Regions from separate parts of the Homo sapiens genome. Here region 2 is linked to region 1. Evidence: fine-mapped QTL for protein levels in blood plasma. Region 1 holds a variant in brackets. A gene starts in the other region. All regions are shown on their reverse strands.

Region 1 (2,897 bases):
CAAGGGGGGATGTTAGTGAGATCCAGGTGGTGGTGGCTTCTTGGTCCACTCAGCTTGCACACATGCAAGAGGAGGGTCTGTGGCCCCTCAGCCGTGCTGGTGGCCTCCTTCCTCAAGCTTTAACTTGTGCCCTCCCTGGCAACAGGGAGTCATGGGTTAATGTCACCTGTCATGCCTCTTTCTTCAGGGAAAATATTAAAAGGCTCAAATCCAAGCTGTGACTTCCCTTAGACAGTGTAAGCCTGTAGGGTGCAGCCCCAAGTTTATGTCCAAAGGCTGCCTCAGAACCCTGGAGGGAGCAGCGCCCAGCTGGCAGCTCACTCTGCCCTTGCAGTTCACTGGCCTTTTCGCAGCCAGGCTAAGATAGGCAGTGCAAGGAGCTTCCCACTGGCCAGAGCAGCTGCCTTGTAGAATGTGGGGCTGGCTTTTAGAAGTTTCACACGCTTGCAGCTAAGAGTGCAGAGCTCTCTGTTTTACTTCGTGAAACATTAGCAGCTCTGAGGGGCTTGGCTTTTGGTAAGGGACTTATGGTCTGACTTGCCACAAGCACCTTGAGCTCCTGGGTTGGTTGGTGGTTGGTTGGTTGGGTTGTTTTAAATTTGATTTTTCTTTTCCTGAAGTTTGTTAGAAGTCAGACCTATGCAAGGAAAACCATGGCCCACTTCAGCAGCCATCCAGTGGGGGTGCTTAATCGGTGGTGGTAGGATTCATGGAAACGTTTTTTTGAAATGAAAGAGAAGATGATGTACTTACATTGTAAAATGGTTTACAATAAAGTTTGGCATCTTATTACAGTTTTTTTTAAAAAGAAACCATCACATTTGTGGTTGTGGTTGTGGGTTCTCTGGAGTTGAAACAGCTTGGCAGGGTCAAAAAAGATTCCCCTGTGAATTAGAAGGTTCTCCCCAGGGACCAGAGTGAGAAGGAACCTTACGAAGCCTCATGGCAGGAGTGGGAGCCAGCAACTGCCCAGTGAAAAGCCAAACATGCTCTTGCCATGTCCATCTCCACTTCTTCGCTAGTGAGAATTAAAGCAAGTCCGTCTCTGAGGAGGACATCGTGTTGGGGAGGTAGAGTATAAGCAGTGAGTAGCCCACATCCTTGTCCCTGAGGCTGCGGGGCTGGAAGGAGGTCCCTGGGCAGAGCCGCAGCATCAGGTGCCATCTGCAGGGGCACCCCTGGAACTAGTGGAAGGCCCCCACAAGGCCTGGCCTGCCCTCAGCTGCCTCTTGGCCC[A/G]TGTGCCACATCCTGGGCATTCCTCATGTCAGCACTTGTCTCAGATCAAGCCTGGCAGTCCTCTCATTGGCCTCCTGGAGCCAGGGTGTCAGGAGGGGGATTGGGGTGGGGTTCAAAGTATGACAGCAATGGAGTGGCATTTGGGATAACCAAATGTCAGTGCCTGGTTGAGTTCCATCTGCCTGGAGCCTTCGAGGATAAAAATAATCTCCATCATAAACTGAAAAGGACTTAGATATGTGTGTTACTGGGAGGGCTGCGACCTATGCACACCTATTCCCCATACCCACCCCAGGCGTAGGCTCCTGGCCTGTGCCCTGGGGGATCTTCCCCTTGCAAGGAGGGGTGTGTTAGGAGCTTCTAGCAAAGGAGAGCTAAGTGACCTTCCGGGGAGCCCTTGGGCCTGTTCTTGTCTCTGCAGCTCAGTATCTGGAGTGGGCTTCACTCTCCCCCACCCTCTTTGAGCAACTGAAACTGTCCTGCAGGCCAGCCCCCCTGCGGTGGCCTCACCTACTCGGAGGTGAGTAGGCTCAGGCCTGAGCCTGAGCCTGTTTCACACCTCTGTCTCATCAGTGCTGTCACCATCGAGCATGGTTTCCTCCCTGGTCCTTTCCAGACCCCTTACTCCCCCCTCTCTGAACTTGCAGTTGGAATAGGATAGAGGACAAGGACATCAGCAAAAACATGAGCAACTCCCCAGGCTCCCTTTACCTCACTTTCTCCACCTGTGAACCTGTGGTAGCCCCTCTCTGAGTTTGCTGCAAGGGCCCAGTGAGCTTGCCATAATCAGACGCAGCAGACACGGGAAGCTCCTGCTCTGCCACCATGCAGGGATGGAAAATCTGTCCACTGGAATCCAGGGGAAGGGATGGAAGAGGAAGAAAAACAAGCTTGGAGCAGTCCAACCCAGCTAGGGCCCTCCATTCCCTCAGGGACACCCCACACCCACCCCACACACTGGGATGAACCCTTGCAGAGGAACAATTCAGATGGTCACACATTCCAGGACCCAAATCCGTAAACACAAAGCATGTCCGTCAGTGCCAGCACCTCCCCCCGGCGAATCAAGCAGCTGTCCCAGAGGGCAAAGGGTCTCTGCAGCCATCTGCTTTCATCAGGGCTGCAGCCCCCAGGCAGCAGTACTGGGAGCCCCTCTCATCTCCGAGAATAAACTCTGAAGCCAGCGACCCTGCGGACCTGAATCATCAGGGAGCCTGTCAGAGGAGGGGCAGTGACTCTGCGGGACAAGCAAGCAGGCTATATAAGTTTCAGAAGGCTGGGCTCCACTCAGATCTTTTCCAGCAGCTGCTGCCTGCCAGAGAGGCGCCTTCAGAGACCCAGCGCTTACACAATACCCACCATGTCCCAGGTAGGAGGACCCAGCAAGGGCTGTGTTGATGCCAGAGGGAGTGGAGGTGGAGTCCTGGACACTTTCGGCTCTGGCAGCTGTGTCTTGATCTGAGCCCCAAGCATGAACTGGAGGCTCTGCAGCCCTTGGGAGATGGGGGCTCAGGGAGGACCCCCTGAAGAACCCCTCTTCTATGTGGCTTTGGTGGTATTCCACGGTTTGTTAGGAGGAGTGGAGAGAAATGTTGGGGGTGGGGGGGGCCTAGATAGATCTTTGCATGTGCCTGTGTGTGTGTGTGTGTGTGTGCGCATCT
Region 2 (2,897 bases), not on the chromosome of region 1:
CCAGGGTGTCCCTCCCTAGGTCCTGGCCACATTTCCCGAAGGTTATTAAATGGAGAATTCAGCAGTGGAGTTAGAGACGGACGAATGTACAGGAAGATAAGAGGGAAACTCTTCCTCATTTGCTTTAGGGGGTTGTGCTGGGAAAATGCGGGGAGGTTAAACAAAGCTTCTCCTAGGACTCCACGATTCATTTCTAACAACTTCTTAAAAGACTCCCGTCTCGGGAGCAGACGCCCCCTCCCCGCTCTCTAAGCCCCGCTGCATGAAAGGATGCCCTCGGCCCCTTGCCAGAGGGCCGGGTCGGGGATTCCCGGGGCTTCAGCTCCTCTGCCGGCCCGCCCCTCCGAGCCTTGGGAGCCAGGTCGCCGGCCGCAGCGCTCAGTCTTGTAGTGTCCTGGCTGCGGAGCAGAAGCGCCCGGGCAGCACCAAGGTGTGCAGTGCGGGAGGCTGGGGCCCCAGGGCGCAGAGTGGGCGCGAGACCCTCCTACTCGCTGGATCCCGGCCAGCCTTTCTGGATTCCAAAGTTTCTGCCGCCCAAAGGGGCTGGGAGAGCCCGAGACGCCGCAGGACACCGGCAATCCAGCCTCTCTCCGCCTCACTCCCCGAACGCCCCCACTCTGCGCACTCCGGTGCGTCTGTCCCCTCCCCCTCAGCCCTCCTCCCTGAGGGCTCCGGACGTGCCCGGCCCTGCTGACCCCCTGCCCGGTCCCTGCCGACCTCAACACTGGGCGAAGCGCCCATATTCACAAACTTGGGCGGGGGAGGGGGTTCCTCCGGAGCAGCTGAGCGGCTGAACCCAGCTGGAGCGCGTCCGGCCGCGCGGGGACACCCAGCATGCACCCTCAGCCCTGAAGACCGGCGCCAAACCTACATACATGAGCGCAGGGCGCGGGCCGGACGCCGGGCTCGCAGCGGGCGCAGGGGTAGCAGCGGCGGGCGCGGGCCCGGGTTGCCAGCGCCCATCCTGGGCCGGCCGGCGACCCGCGTGGGGCGGACCACTAACAGCCCAGCCCCACCTGCGCGCTCCGCCTGGCGCGCACACCGGGCTAGGGCGTCTCTGGGGAGTCGCTCATCGCGCTGTCAGCTGCCGGTAGTCGCGGCCCCAACTCGCGTCAGTGCCCGCGTCGCCCTCAGTCGCTCATCCTCCGGCCTCGTCCCCGCTTCTCCGAGACCAAGCGCGCCCCGGGGGCCACCCTGGCGCCGCCTCGCTCCTCTCCGCGGAGGGGTTCGGGGAGCTCTCCAGACCCGGCAGCCGGAATGTCTGGGCAGCCGTGGCGCGTCGGAGGGAAAAGAGAAGCCCGGAGCGCGGCCGGCGCGCGAGTGGCACCGAGGCCAGCATGGGAGCTAGCGCGCCCGCCTCCCGCCTCCCCCTGCCGCAGCCGCCTCCGCCCGGCTCCCGTTCCGCTCCCTCCTCTGCTGCCCCCGCTCTGGAGGCCCCGCCTTGGCCCGCGCTGCCCCGGGGGAGGCCCTCGCGCTGCCCCCGGAGAGGCCCTACCGCCGCACCCGCTCCCTTTGCTGCGCCGGACCAACCTGTCACTCGTCCGCGCGGCCGCGTCCCCACCTCCGCAGCCGGCCGCAGACCCTGCCAGGGCTGCCATTCTCCAGTCGAGTCATTCACTTTGCGCTGGACCTTTCATCTTGGCTTTTCTCTTTTCTTTAATTTCTTCCTTCCTAATTGGCCCCCTCTGGCTTTCCTCTTTGTGGACAGCTTGTTTCAGCTACTGTGTTCAGATTGGGATTCGAAGGCCGTGTTAGTTTAGCAGACTGTTGAGACTTTCTCGTCTTTGCATTCAGAAACCCAGAGAAATAGACGTTTACGAGTAAGAAACGTAAAAATCTCAAGCGCGAACTTTCTGAATCTCTGCCAATCTCTCCCCGCTCCCATCTTCCTCTTTCTGCCTGCTCTCTCTTCTACTACAAATAGAAACCTGTTTCCTAACTTTGCTAGAATCCTCAACTGTTAAGCAGAGGCCCGGTTGTTTTTACTCTTTGATCTTGTGTAAACGAGAAAACGTCAATAGTACCTGTTCAAATTAATCCCCGAAATTGAATTTTCATGGAAATGGCCCATGGCAGTGGTTCCCACTCACGGCATTTTAGAATCCCTGAAAGTGCTCGGACGGTAAACAGATAAGCTTCCCTGCAAGGTCAGGCGCTCTGGCTGGTGGGAACTGGGGAGGCTGGTTTGGGACACAGTTATGTCTATCTTTTAATAGTATAGACAAACAAATCTTAGCTGAGGTGCTAGGGAGCCCTCCTTGAAAGCCTGAGAAGGCTGCCCCTCCACCCCCTCCAACACATACACAACCAACAGGGCTGGATGGAGGATTTCTTTCTCTCTCTCTCTCTCTTTTTTTTTTTTTTCAGACGGAGTCTCGCTCTGTGGCCTAGCCTGGAGCGCAGTGGCGCGATCTCCACTTACTGCAAGCTCGATTCCCGGGTTCATGCCTTTCTGCCGCCTCAGCCTCCTGAGTAGCTGGGACTACAGTCGTCCGCCATCACCCCCAGCTAATTTTGTTTTTGTATTTTTAGTGAGACGGGGTTTCACCATGTTGGACATGATGGTCTCGATCTCCGGACCTCGTGATCCTCCTGCCTCGGTCTCCCAAAATGCTGGTGAGCCACCGCGCCTGGCCTGGATGGAGGATTTCTATGTACAGGATGATTTGAGCCCTTCTGCTGTTTCAGTTCTCACTCTCATTTTTCCTTTTTTTTTTTTTTTTAATGTTTTAGAGACACGATCTCACTTTGTCACCCAGGCTTCAGTGCAGTGGCATGATCACGGCCCACTGCAGCCTCAAACTCCTGCCTCAGACTCCGGAGGAGCTGGGTGTACAGGTCACCACACAGGGCTAATTTTTTGTTTGTTTGTTTTGTTTTGTTTCGTTTAGGTTTTT

Which allele goes with the higher level. Alleles are on the strand shown, and positions count from the first base shown. The strength of an association depends on the size of the effect and on how common the allele is.
For the plasma level of the protein whose gene starts at base 1,351 in region 2, G is the low allele of the variant in region 1 and A is the other (moderate association).

Evidence for each region. PIP is the posterior inclusion probability: the model's chance that the variant is causal. Protein levels are from antibody-based Olink assays in UK Biobank. Linkage for the fine-mapping came from a reference panel and not from the study's own genotypes, which makes the PIPs less certain.
Region 2: it holds the start of VWC2, and the variant in region 1 is fine-mapped to the plasma level of the VWC2 protein (UK Biobank, PIP above 0.99).

What each region holds. Positions count from the first base shown.
Region 1 is chr3:52,834,648-52,837,544 of GRCh38, reverse strand. All of the region lies in intron 8 of STIMATE-MUSTN1 (STIMATE-MUSTN1 readthrough), which reads left to right. It overlaps MUSTN1 (musculoskeletal, embryonic nuclear protein 1), which reads left to right and starts at 2,526. Exons shown (of 3, transcript NM_205853.4): 1 at 2,526-2,605. The coding sequence starts at 2,597. STIMATE (STIM activating enhancer) reads left to right here. Exons shown (of 8, transcript NM_198563.5): 8 at 1-812. RefSeq lists an enhancer at 1-95. The variant A/G (reference allele first, on the strand shown) is at 1,237.
Region 2 is chr7:49,772,092-49,774,988 of GRCh38, reverse strand. VWC2 (von Willebrand factor C domain containing 2) reads right to left here and starts at 1,351. Exons shown (of 4, transcript NM_198570.5): 1 at 876-1,351.